Linked DNA regions of Homo sapiens. The protein of the gene in region 1 interacts with the protein of each later gene in a pairwise test. Each region holds a gene or a part of one and is shown on either strand. Other genes may lie near its edges. The genes, in order: SYCP3 and SYCP2.

Region 1 (7,287 bases):
ACACACACACACACACACACACACACACACATATACATACATACATATATTTGTATATAAGTTTTTCATTTTTTCAGTTTAGTTATTTTCTGACTTCCTATGCTATTTTCTTTAGGGAGGACAGTGTAAATTAAGCCTCTAAAATAACTCTTTTTACATTAATAAACTATGTAGTTGATACTAAAGACAATTTTGCTAGATAGAGTTTTATAATTAGGTTCAAAAATTCTCAAGTTTTAAATAATATATTAAGTATCAATAATATGAGCTTTGTTAGAGATTAGTTATCTTAAAAAAGAGTTAATATTTAGCTCCTCTAAATGGATTGTTCATACAGTCAACTCTTTTTTGAAACCTTTGCTCTGTCCGGTGGTGAAACAGTGCTTGTTTTATAAATTTATTATAGATAATACTGAAAGTATAAAATATTTATGTAATAGTGCAGCTACAGCATGATTACTGAAAGATACCTATTTATGGTAGATCCATAAGATAAAGGCTTATGTTTAGCAAAGCATTATTTGAAGTAGTAAACATTTTATGAAATGCAGTTCTTATGGGTAAAAATGCCCAATAAAGAGCTCCACAAAAGCATTTAAAACTGATCTTATTCACCTATTTCTCATTGAAAAATAAAGTGATCTTAATTTATCTAGAAATTTACTTAAACTAAGATTTTTTTCTGTCCTTGGTCTTTGTCTCTTAGTAAAAAATGTATTTAAAAGTATCATTGATGGCCAGGCACAGGGGCTCACACCTGTAATTCCAGCACTTTGGAAGGCCAAGGCAGGAGGATTGCTTGAGGCCAGGAGTTCAAGACCAGCTTGGTCAACATAGTGAGACCCCCGTGTCTTTAAAAAAAAAAAAATATATATATATATATATATAAAATTGATTATATTAAAAATAGTTTTCTTCTTTAACTATTTTTATCCTTTTTGGATTCTTTCTAATAGAGTACTTTTACATATTTTCTATAATGAGTTCTAACAATAATTCATTGAAATGTGTCCTTTTAATTGGGGTGTATTTTATAAATTTAGATAAATTTAGCCTTTTTAAAAATTTTTTTTTATTTTTGAGACGGAGTCTCACTCTGTCCCCAGGCTGGAGTGCAGTGGTGCAATCTCAGCTCACTGCAACCTCTGCCTCCCGGGTTCAAGCGATTCTCCTGCCTCAGTCTGCCAAGTAGTTGTGACTACAGGTGTGCGCCACCACGCCCAGCTAATTTTTGTATTTTTAGTAGAGACAGGCTTTCACCACGTTGGTCAGGATGGTCTCGATCTTTTGACCTTGTGATCTGCCTGCCTCAGACTCCCAAAGTGCTGGGATTACAGGTGTGAGCCACCGCGTCTGGCCTACATTTAGCCTTTATTAACAGTGTTTTCTCATGGGGAAATTTAAAGTCTGTCCTTGACACATTGTTTTGTTTATTAGCTCTTTTTTATTGTTCCTAAGTTAAAAAATTATCTCCAGTTAGGAAAATCAGAATTTGGGTGCTAGTAGCTGAGAGTTTTCTCAGAAAAAAAAAGTAAGCAAACAATTCTGCATTTTGAAATTATGCCTATTTCTAAATTTAAGTTTAAATGTCTTTCCAATATTGTTGAACCAACCTTACCCATATTTACTTGAATATGTGGGAACAAAATACTTTTTTCAACATTAAATTTTAATGAATTTTTATTTTCAATCTAGTTGACATTAACAAGGCTCTTCTTGCCAAGAGAAAGAGACTAGAAATGTATACCAAGGCTTCTCTCAAAACTAGTAACCAGAAAATTGAACATGTTTGGAAAACACAACAAGATCAAAGGTAAGGTGGTTGCTTTTTTTTTAGAGCCACATTTCTTAGTATTTACTGGTATAAATTACTTATGAAAAATACTATTCTAGGATCGGCACGGTGGCTCATGCCAGTAATCCCAGCACTTTGGGAGGCCAAGGCAGGCAGATCACTTGAGGTCAGGAGTTAGAGACCAGCCTGGCCAACATGGTGAAACTCCATCTCTACTAAAAATACAAAAATTAACCAGGCGTGCTCGCTTGAACCTAGGAGGCAGAGGTTACAGTGAGCCAAGGTCGTGACACTGCACTCTAGCCTGGGCAACAGAGTGAGACTCTGTCAAAAAAAACAAGAAAAGAAAAATACTATTCTAGTTACTGGGGTTTCTAGTGAAAATGTATTTGGCTTGATTTTTCTCTAAGTATGATAGTCCTGTAGCCCTATAACCTCACTCCTTCATAGAATTGACATTATTTCCTAAAAAATCAATAAAGATCACTTTTTTCCTTTTAGGTAACAAGTGAGGTTATAAAAGTAATTTCGTTTTTTGTTGTTGTTTTATGAGATGGGGGTCTCATTATGTTGCCCAGGCTGGTCTTGAACTCCTAGGCTCAAGCGATCCTCTCACCTCAGCCTCCCAAGTGCTGGGATTATAGGCATGAACCACCATGCCCAGCCTAAAAGTAATTTATGTTCATTCTAGAAATACACTAGTTGAATAAAAGGTAAATGTCATAAAAACCGTTAGTCTTATGATGGTGAATTATGTTCAACAATGTAGAAGAACACCAATCTTGTATCGTATATAATTTGTATGTTTTAGCTGACTTAACTCTTCTTTTGTATAAAATCTTTTGTTAAGCCAAAATAGGGAAAAAAATTAAGCGAACTATTTCTATTTAGAAATCTTATAGGATAAATACAATCACCTTATTTAATGTATTTGTTATATCAGAATCTATATTCAATAGGAAAAAAATGAAAAATAAACTGCTTAGAGATCAGATGAATTTCTTTTTGAAAATTTATATATACAATAAAACTTCCTTAGTTTTCAAGAGCTAAAGCTTGTGACAGGGCTTTTCTTCTATTAGTTTGTTAGAAAAAAAATACTTCTGGAATCAGTGTAAATCATAATTTTACTTTTTGGTTTCCCATCAGAAGACTTAAGCTGCAGGTATTTCCTTTTCTTATATAGTATAACTGTGTCAACTCAGTTTTGTTTTAAATTCTTTTTATATTGGTATGAAATATGACAATAATTCATCATTATGTTTTACAGGCAGAAGCTTAACCAAGAATATTCTCAGCAGTTTCTGACTTTGTTTCAGCAGTGGGATTTAGATATGCAGAAAGCTGAGGAACAAGAAGAAAAAATACTTGTTGGTATCATGATTAGGTTTATAATCAACCAAGTCTCAAGTAGGAATGGACAACCTAGCCTTTTATTGTGACCAGTGGAACTGAGCCAGGTTTCATTAACCATTGCTGGCCATGTGTTTTAAACCTACTGAACTGTAAACCACAGACGTATAGGCACATACCATACTCATAAAAGGCATTTATATTGTTTGGGGTTCCTGCATTTCCAAGTGACAGAAATTTGTCAAAGTACAAAAGAAGGATCATTGGTTTATGTAAAAGAAGTCGGGGCAGTTTAGCTTCAGGCATAGCCAGATGGGAACAGGGAGGGGGTTGCTCATGTAGTGTCATCTGGGTTCTGTCATCAGTACTTAGTAAGGTGTCTTGATGTAGTAAGCAAGATAGTTTTTACAGTCCTAGGCTTATTACAAGTTTAGTAACCCCAGTGGACTGAGAAAATCTTTCTCAATAGCTCTGGCAAAAAATTCCTCTGGGAAAATATGACTGATGGGAGTTTGGATCATTTGCCCATTCTTGAACCAATCATTGTATAGTTAGCCCTCTGTATATAAGGGTTCCGCATCTGTGTATTCAACCAATCGTGGATGAAAAATATTTGGAAAAGGCTGGGCGTGGTGGTGGTTCATGCCTGTAATCCCAGCACTTTGGGAGGCCGAGGCGGGTGGATCACCTGAGGTTGGGAGTTTGAGACCAGCCTGACCAATATGGTGAAAACCCATCTCTACTAGAAATACAAAAATTAGCCGGGCTGTGATGGCGTGTGCCTATAATCCAAGTTACTCAGGAGGCTGAGGCGGGAGAATCACTTGAACCTGGGAGGCGGAGGCTGCAGTGAGCCGAGATTGTGCCACTGCACTCCAGCCTGGGTGACAGAGGGAGACCCTTTCTTGAAAAAAAAAAAAAAAGAAAAAAGAAAAAATGCAAATTGGAAAAATAATCCAGTGTTACAACTATACAGCATTTACATTGTGTTAGGTATTATAAGAGATCTAGAAATGATTTAAAGTATGTGGAAGGATGTGCATTGGTTATATGCAAATATGATGCCATTTTGTAACAGGAACTCGAGCATCTGCACATTTTGGTCTCCTGAGGGGTTGGGTGTCCTGGAACTGGTCCCCCCAGGATACCTAAGGATGTCTGTAGTCAGAACATTGTTGACTTTTAATGGCCAGACTTGTGTTACCTGCAAGTGAGGATATTGGGGGTAGGGATGACAGTGTAAAATAGATAGGATGGATTTGTGGCACTGATAGATTATTGAGCTGTAGTACTAAAAAGAGTAAGTTAGAATGGTAAAGAAGTAGTGGTTAAATACTAGGATAGACAGAGAAACAGTATGTATAATGGTTAGAGCCTGGATGCCAGCAACAATACTGTTTTGGATCAAATTCTTGTTTGAGCAATTGTAGCTGTGAAACCATGGACAGATTATGCCTCAGTTTACTCATCTATGAAAGGGGAATGCTGAGTATCTATCTCTTAGAAAGTTTACCATTACTAATACTGTGTAGTGGTTAGAATTATTAGTAATGACAAAATCTAGGGTGGGAGTATGTAAGTCAATGGCTAAAGTAGGGTAGAGGCCAAAATCATTGAGAAACAGGTCACGAAACGGAAAACCATTATTATTGGAAGGATCATCTGTGTGGACATTGAAATCACCAAGAATTAAGACATGACTTGATTATTGTTAAAATTTCCCATTCAGCAACTGGTAGAATTAATATATTGTTACATATTAGTGGTGAACATAAATTATCTAAATGTGGTCATAATAGTTGTTAAAATTTTAAAAGCATTGATTTTTAACACTTTCTTTTAAGTTTAATGTAGAATTATTTTTTCTAAATTTAAAATTTTACCCAAATTGTTATTACACAGTTTTTTTTCTTTTATATTTGTAGAATATGTTTCGACAGCAACAAAAGATTCTTCAACAATCTAGAATTGTTCAGAGCCAGAGATTGAAAACAATTAAACAGTTATATGAGCAGTTCATAAAGGTTTGTTGTATGTGGTAACACAATACATCGTTATAAAACATAATATATTTATGGAAGTAGAAGATAATTCTTTCTAAGTTTATGGGAAAAAACATTTTAGACTTTAACTACTTTTCCATTTTGAATTCATTGTTTCTGATTTAAGTGATAAATATATTTTTACTTGAGGATTCAAATGGTTTTGTTGGGATTATTCAAGACAGGAAATGGTAAATTGGGAATTTTACTTAGAAATATACTTATCATGCATAAAATCCATACTTTAATAACACTTCAGTCATAGTTCTCTGTTTAAGTGAAAATAGACTCTATAATAATCATTTTTAGGTTGTATTTTACTTGTTTTTTTATCCCCAGTGTTTGTTAAATAGAAAGTACCCAAATTATTGAATTCTCTTGTTTTCAAATGTATTATAGAAGTATTTTATGGCACATTTGCTTTTAGAATTATTACAGTGACCAAAAATGAATTTATATCCAACATAAAATAACAGATATAATAGACATCTGAGGATTAAAAGTCTGTGGATTGATAATTATCTACTGACACATACATATTAGCAAATTGTAGTCTGTACCCCTCTTGTTCAGGCAGAAATATACTTTTTAGTAACTATTCATAGAAGCTCAATGGAATCTTGCATATACTTTTTTTCAGTGGTGGTTCCTTTAGATAGTCTTGTGCAAATACATGTTAAAATAACATTAAAGGAATTGGGATGCTCTAAGTAAACTAGCAAAATTGTTTTAAAATAAATATTTCAGAATAACTTTAATATATATGGCCGAGCACAGTGGCTGACACTTTGGGATGCCAAGGCGAGATCACTCGAGCCCAGGGTTTCAAGACCAGCCTGAGCAACATGACAAAACCCCATCTCTATTAAGAACAAACAAACAAACAAAAATAGCTGGGCATGGTGGCACTCACCTGTAGTCCCAGCTACTGGGAAGGCTGAGGTGGGAGGATCACTTGAGCCCTGGAGGCAAAGGTTGCAGTGAGCTGAAATCGTACTACTGTACTCCAGCCTGGGCGACAGCGAGACCCTGCCTCAAAAAAAAAAAAAAAAAAAAAATTATACACACACATGTTATTTTAAAAAGTATTTCCAAGTGGAAAACTTGTTGTCTTGTTCCAATGCTCTGAGAACCATTTGGTAGTTGGTGTGAAGTTTTGATAAAGTACTAGATAAAGATTTCTTCTAAATGTTATCACTAAATGTTACTATTTAGGATAGGAACTATAGTATAACCTTTGACTCTTCCATCTCCTTTCTCTGTCACATCCAGTTATTACTAGGCCCTGTAATTTTTACTTCTGCAGTGGTTCTTTCTTTTAATGCCCACTGCTACTACCCTAGTTTAGGACCTCATTATTATTTGCTTGTACCATTAAAATTCTTAACTGATGTCTCTGTTCTCCAATCTATCCCTCCTAGATCTGCCATATTATCTTTTAAAAATATATCTCTTCCCTCTTGAAAAACTGTCAGTAGCCTCCTGTTCTAAATTCTTAGGTATTGAAGATCCCCCTATGACATGACCCTCTTTTTAAGCTTCATTTACTACATTTGTTCATTACCCCACCCCTCCACATAACTGCTTTCTCTCAGCTCACTATGTACTTCCATGCTTCTGCTTATGCCCTTCCCCTAGAATATATTTAACTCCTTTTTCTTTATCTATTGAAATCTTAGTATTTTGCCCACTAAATTGGAATTAATCCCCATTTTCCACTATATCACCACAGCAAGTTGTGCTTCCATTCCTATTATAAAATTTTTGTTTTGTTCCTATGTTTTTTTCTCATTGCCATCAGGAAGCAATCATGTATTATTGTTTTTTAATTTCTCTACAGCACTTAATACACACCTTTTACATAGTAGGCACCAGATTAACTGTTTGTTGAATGAATAATAAAGACGTAAGACATAATTTTTATTTTTCATAATGTGAAAGAGGTTGTACTATAGATTATTTTATTCCCTCTAGTGAATTCATGGCACACTATTAGTCATAAGTAGATTATTGCTTGATATTTGGAAAGCTTAATAGAAATGGTTTTTACTGATGTGGGACTTCCAGTCTTTTTTATCTTGACCTTAACAGTTCAGG
Region 2 (7,287 bases), on another chromosome or scaffold:
ATTAAATATTATAACAATACATTTATTCACTATTTTAGTGTTTGCTTACTGTCTAAAGAGTCCATATCATGTTCACGTAGTTCATGTCTAGATCTACATATATATTAATATAGATTGCTTACTACTACAGAATGTTCCTCAGCCACCATGTGCTACTGTTGCAAATACTGTGCACTAATTTGCTAGTATTTCTAGAGTCACAAATTGGAGTAAAAAGAGAAGGAAGAAGATGGGCATTTGGCACTGTTAAGAAGTAGTATCTTGTCATGCAAGAATCATCTGTGTTCTTGCTTTGCAGGGGAAGGATTTGACAATATCTCTTTTCTCTTACCTAAGCACTTGCTCACATGCTATCTTTGTTCTGAAGCAGAGACTAAAATGTTAGCATTAGCACAATCTGAAACCTTCTCTGTATTCAATTGTGGCTTCACACTCCCCGACTTCTTTAAGCATTTTTTTTTTATTATTATGGAAAATTCGGACATACGTAAAGTAAGCAGAATAGTGTAATTAATTGCAGTCCTCTTCTTTCATAGGCATAGGCAAAGGAAGTTCAGGGGCCTGAAAGATAGAGTTATGAGAATGAATAATGTGTTCATGGTTATAGACTTTCTGGGGGTAGGGCTGAGTCCTGGATTTTGAGCTAATAGAGATGCCTGTGTGCTCAGTAATAAGAGATAGTGAGAAAGAGATTACACTATATAGAGCGCATAGCAGGGGCCCCTTTTGCTCTGTCCTAATGGTTGTGGTGATTGAAAGGGTATATATGAGTGTATGTTGAACCTTAGGAAACAGAATTAAGTTAATTTAATCAATTGTATTCTCAGTCTAGACACCATGCTTTACTACACTCCTCTAAATAAATAATTAAAATTCTCTTTTTTTTTTTGTCTTTTGGTCCATTTTATTCCCTATCCCTAGGGTTATTTTCTTTACCTGTGCAAATCATCCAATGTTCATATGCCCAGTATTTGTATCCTTCTTTAATAAAGTATCCTCTGGTGTTACACAGATATACACATATCAATAACAGTGCATATAAGCCTTTATTAAGTATACTTTAGATTTTACATAAAGAATTTCTATTATCTCATTCTGCATTTTTTATGCTTTATATTGTGTTTGAGATGCACCATATTCTGAGATACAGATCTTCTTCATTATATTCAGCTACTGAATTCAGTTGCATCACTCACCACATTTCATGTTTACCTCCTCACCCAACACACTGACAGAGGCAGTTTTCAGTTTCTTGATATTAGAAGAAATGCTTCAGTAAATATTTTTATATTCCCTTTGTGCTTCTGAGTTTCTCTAAAGTGTAAAATTAGAAGTGGAACTACTGTGTCATATGGTATTCAAGTTTACATTTTTACCCAATGCTATCAAACTCTTTTTCAAAGTGCAGTTATTTGCTTCCCACCAGGAGTACATACATGATTTCCAATTTCCTTTATTCCCACTGTGACTTCGTAGTATCAGTCTCTTTAGTTTTTGCCAATATGGTGGATGGTGGAGAGGGGACTGGTTATTGTTTTACTAGCATTCTGATTACCATGGAGGTAGCATTTTCATTTCTTTATTAGCCAGTTGAGTTTTACTTTCTGAATGACCTCTTCTTCTTTTCCATTTTTGCTGTTGGGTTATTGCTTTTTTTTCCTCCTTGATTTGTTAAGTTCTTCATAATAATACTTTTTATGTTAATCCTTAGTCTCTTATTCCATTGCAAATGTCTTCCTAGTATGCTGCCTCTCTTTTACAAACAGTGATGCACAAAAAGTTAAAATCTATTACTTTTTATGTTTTGTGCATTTGTTTTAAATTCTTTCCTCTTGGAACATCTTAGTGATAGCCTCCTGAATTTTCTGCTAATAGTTTATAAACATTTACTTTTTACATTCATGTAGTTAATTTATCTAGACCTTATTTTTTTATGGCAAAATAGATTTCTAATGTTATTTTTTCCACATGCCAAGTCACTTTTCCCAGACCATTTATTGACCAGTTTACCTTTCCCGATTTGCGAAACCATCTGACTCAAATATGAACTTCCAATATATGCTTATGTGTTTGAATTCTGTTTTGTTTTATTGATCCATTTGTTTTCCATTCTTAATACTTCACTGTTTATAGTTATTTCTTGTGACTTTGTAATATGTTTTAATATCAAATAAGGTGATTTTTCTTCTCTAATATTTTAAAAGTTATTTTAGTATTAGAGCAGCATTATTCCTCCATACATGTTTTAAAAGAATTAGCCAAATCTCTCAAATTATTATTTTGTGATTTTTACTGGAATTGCTTTGGAGTTTAGAAATTCAGATGTTTATTTTAGTGAAGCATTGATGGTTTTATAATGTTAAGTCCTTCCATTAATGAATAGGAACAACTCCATGTATTCATATCTCTTGTTAAGATCTTTTTGTTAGATTTATTCATTTTAGTTATTTATATTAAAAAATGCAATTGTCTGATTATTGCTAATATAAAAAGGAACACTGTAGATATTTATGTTGAGCCTCGCTGGAATCTCTCAAAGGTCCTCTGATAAACAGCATTCCTCTTTCTTCCTGGGTTCTGACAGAGTAGGAAAAGAAACGTAACCTTCATTAGTCCTATATTGGCTAGGTTCATGGGTGTGAGTTTAGGTTGTTGGCCTAGTGAATTTGCTAATACTGAGCTCCAGAATTGAGCAAACTTACTGCCCAAGGCACTGCAAGGTAATTGAGTTAGACCTTTCCAGCCCTGCATTTTTCACCTTCCACCCTGGAAGAGAAAGCTTACTGTATTGACTCCAGAAAAAAAGGACAGAACAAAATACTGACTTTCTCACAGGGGCAGAGCTTCCAGAAGGAACAAAACTGAAAACAACATGAAACTCCTCTTTCAGTTTTCATGTAAACAAAAGGGTGAGCCTGAGCTGAGCCTGGCTCATTTTCCTTCCCAAATTTACCAATCAAATATTTCCAGCTCCTCAGTGGTGATGTAAATTAAAGAAATAGAGAGAGGCCGATGGTATACTCAGTCTTTCTCACGGAAGCTAGGAGTAGGGAAAAGGTATTTCTCTCTAACATTTCCTAGCTTTTTGTTCACTTAATTATTAACCTGTTTTTTGGAGGAGATTTATCTGGATGGTTCTTTTCCTTTCTTCATGAGGCCATTACCTTCTTTTGGGTATTCTCTTTGGATTGTGGAAGAACTTTAGATGTTGACCCTGGAAGAAGATTCTACTTTGGGTTAGAACAGAAAATTGAAACCTAATGCCACTCTATATCTGAGGCAGAAATGTCACTGTTTTACTTCCCATTCCAAATTATCTCTAGATATATGGTAGAGCCTTTGATGTACTATACTGAACAAAGGTATTTGGCAATACATAAAGATGTTTCAGCAGTAAAATGCCAACAAATTTGAATGTAAAGATTTTCTGTTTTGAACATCTCAGGGAACATTAAGGTTGCAAGATTAAAACCCTTTACAAGTTAAAGACCAAGGACTGAAAGATTTAAGTGTCCAGAATCCTTTTTTTGTGCTTCTGAATTTAAAAGTCTAAAGGCCAAAACTTTTAAGTCCCAAAGACACATTCTCAACAAATCTCATTACGTTCAAGTGCAGTCAGATTCTTTGGTGGAGTTGGAGTTCTTTCATCAGCTGTAGCTTCAGCTGTTTTCCATGGAAAGGAAGTACCAGTTATATGTTCTCAGAAACTGTTTGTCCAATGCCAAAGTTCTGGTATATATTTCCAGTAGACCAGTCTCTGTCAGTTATCCAGAATCTGACTTGTTTCACTTTAATTGAAATGGAGAAAATATTTCAGCAAGAGGCTAATTTTGGCACTACATTTGAGGAAAATTTCTATAATTATGTCACCCTGTAATGGCATTGCTGCCTTATGTGCAAGGGGGTAACCCAGGCTGCCCTGGTTACTAGCTCTTATATGACATGTTTTCCTTCCCCACCCAGTACATTCAAAACCTCAACTTTTATTTCTTCTTTGAATCCCATGTTTTTGGCATTCCAATATTAAGTTTGGGCTTTATGTAGTGACTGTTATGGGTTGAATTGTGTTCCCCTAAAAAGATATGTGAGATTCTAATTCCCAGTATCTCAGAATGTGACCTTTTCTGGAAATAGGGTCTTTTGCATTTAACCAAGTTAAGTTATTAACTTATTATTTAAGTTATTAGGGTGGGCCCTAACCCAATATATATTTATAAAAAGGGGAAATTTGGATACAGATATGCATAGAAGACAATGTGAAAAGTAAAAGGAAGAATACCATGTGATAAAGGAGGCAGAGAGTGGATTTATACTGCCACAAGTCAAAGAATGTCGGCAGCTACCAGAAGCTTAAAGATCCTTCTTCCAGCACTTTCAGAGGGAGTATGATCCTACTGACCCCTTTACTTTAGACGTCTTGCCTCCACACTGAGATAATTTCTGCTGTTCTAAGCCATCCAGTTTGTGGCACTTTGTTAAGGCAACCCTAGGAAATTAATACAGTGAGAGTCCACACATAGCTGTGAGCAAACATTTTTCTTCTTGTTACAGAGGCAGTTGGCACAATTCCATCCCTTATGGAATTTATTGGATTTATGAAACCTGTCTTACAGGAGAAGGTTCCTCCTTCAATCCATATTTGTTTTGGCTGGAGACTGTCTCCCAGCAGATTCCTGAATGGAAGCTGCTTTTGTTACTTCTAAAGTTTGTTTCCTTAATACTAGGAGGTGGGGTTAGGAAGAATTCTGAGCCTATAGACAAACATAAATTCAGAGCTATTATTTCCACAGTTCTCTGTGAGGTTTTGACAAACTAGTGAGGTTTTAAAGCAGGCAGTATTGTTCTGCTTCACTTCATCTAAATGAACACTCATGAACTTCTGGTTTTCTTAAAAAAAGAAATCTAACAGATTGATAATAAATTATAGTACCTACATGCATTTGGGAGCAGTAGTAGTCCCAGTAATCCTCTGTTTGATGAGGAAATCTTCCCTCTATTTAAAACATTTAGGAATCAAAGATGTCAATTATAACCTTGTTACCAGGGCAATACGTTAACAAGTGAGGCAACTGGTCAGAGTTATAGACTCTTTTGAAGGTGGAAGGTCAGAGGCTATGACATTAAATAGGCTGAGGTGCCAAAATAGGACCCTTTTATTCAGTTCATGTTTCCAAGAGTATGTTTACATTAACTGATAACCAGATAACTTAGTAACAGTTGTGAATATTCACACATGTGAATAATGTACAAGAGAAAAATACTTTCATCTGTGTGGCCTGCCTTGTTCTCTCAATGATGTTTTCCAACAGAGTTCTTTCTTTTGTTAAATCCTATGCTCATGGATTGAGAAAATCAATAGGTTATTTTAAGTTCTGGGCTACATGTGCAAGATGTGCAGGTTTGTTGCATAGGAAAATGTGTGTCATGGTGGTTTGCTGCACCTATCAACCTGTAAGTATTAAACTAAGCATGCATTAGCCATTTTTCCTAATGCTCTCCCTCCTGCTGCCCCACCAGGCACCAGTGTGTGTTGTTCCCCTCCCTGTATCCATGTGTTCTCATTGAACAAGAGTTTCTGATTTTAAGGTTGTCCAACTTATCAGTTGTCTTTTATGGTTAGAGCTTTTTATAATCTTGCTTATTGCTTATTGCAGGTCATGAAGATGTTCTAATATATTATGTTCTAGAAACTTAATTGTTCTCAATTTTCATTCCACCTGGAAATGGTGTTTGCATATGGTATGAGATGGTATGAAGTAGTGAGGTTTTGTTATATTTCTTATGAACATCCAGTTGAACAGTATAGATTAATTGAAAAGATTATCTTACCCTTTCCTTACTGCTTTATGTTCTACCTTGATCATAAGTCAAGTCATGTGTATAGGTCTGTTTCTGGATTCTCTTTTCAGTACCATCTGTGTTGGACTTTTATGGTAAATCCAACAGTAATATAGTTTTATTAGCTTTCTTTTGTTTGTGTGGTAGCTATCTTTTCTTTTTATTTCCAACTGTTTTGTAGCCCTTTATTTAAGGTATATCTCTTAAAATATAATATTTTTGGACAGCATATAGTTTTAAAAATGATTAACCTACCCGACAATCCAACTTTTTTCTTTTTAATTTTTGTGGGTACATAGTAGGTGTCAATGGAGTATGTAAGATGTTTTGATACAGGCACGCAATGTTAAATGAGCACATTATGGAGAATGGGGTATCCATCCCTCAAGCACTGATCCTTTGAGGACAATCTGCCTTTTAATTGGAGTTGTAGGGGAGGCAAAACTTTACCTCTTCCCTTTTAGAGTTAAATTGACATAGACAGATCAACTGGAGAAAAACACACAAATTTCTTTAATACATGTTTTACATGACACAGGATCCCTCATAAGAACATGAAGACCCAAAGAAGTAGTTAGGGTCAGTTATATACTGAATTGGACAAAGAATAGTAAGTTGTGAACTAAGATAAGGCAAAGAGGCCTTAGGCTAGGGTAGTTAATTGGGTGGAGAAATGACTAGGAAGATAGGAGTGGGTTTAACAAAGTTTGGTTGTACAGATTTTCTTAATTTTAACTTCCCCTCCTTAATTATAAGATTACTTCTCTTTTGGTATAGAGAGGACATCTTTCACATGGGAATTTCATTTCCTGCTTTTAGGAAACAGAATGAAGGTGGGAGTGATCTTGTACCTGCTGTTTTTTGTTGAGTGCCTTTAATTTAAAATAGTCAATATGTCAGAGCAGCATATTGGGAGGGTGACATTCTTACTTCTTCAGAGTATTTAATATATTTTACTTTCAATGTAATTATTGATATGTAACTTTTAATCTATCACCTTACTTTGTGTTGTCTGTTTTTCTTTCTTCTTCTGGGTCTCTTTCTGTTTCTCTCTCTCTCTCTGGATTGATTAAAATGAAAACATTACAGCCTCCCTCCTCACACTTAGCTTAGTAGTTACGTATTCTTTCACTACTCATTTAGTGGTTACCTTAGAAATGATGACATGCATTCTTTTTGTTTATTTTAGAGACAGAGTCTCCCTCTCTTGACTAGGCTAGAGTACAGTGTTGTAGTCATAGCTCACTGTAACCTTCAACTTCTAGGCTCAAGCAATTTCTCACCCCAGCCTCCAGAGTAGCTGGGATTACAGGCACACACCACTATACCCAGCTAATTAAAAAAAAATTTTTTTGTAGACATGGAGTTTTGTAACATACAATATTTAAAAAAAAAATTCCCATAATTATTAAAATGAGATGGTAAGAAACATAATCATCAGACTTTATT

Evidence for each region.
Region 2: the proteins of SYCP3 (region 1) and SYCP2 interact in a two-hybrid assay, tested with the Homo sapiens proteins (one study listed by BioGRID).

Annotation. Positions count from the first base shown.
Region 1 is NC_000012.12:101,729,453-101,736,739, reverse strand, and holds part of SYCP3 (synaptonemal complex protein 3), read left to right. Parts: intron 1-1,695; coding exon 1,696-1,813; intron 1,814-3,065; coding exon 3,066-3,165; intron 3,166-5,073; coding exon 5,074-5,172; intron 5,173-7,287.
Region 2 is NC_000020.11:59,923,441-59,930,727, reverse strand, and holds part of SYCP2 (synaptonemal complex protein 2), read left to right. Parts: intron 1-7,287. UniProt on the Homo sapiens protein: Major component of the axial/lateral elements of synaptonemal complexes (SCS) during meiotic prophase. Plays a role in the assembly of synaptonemal complexes.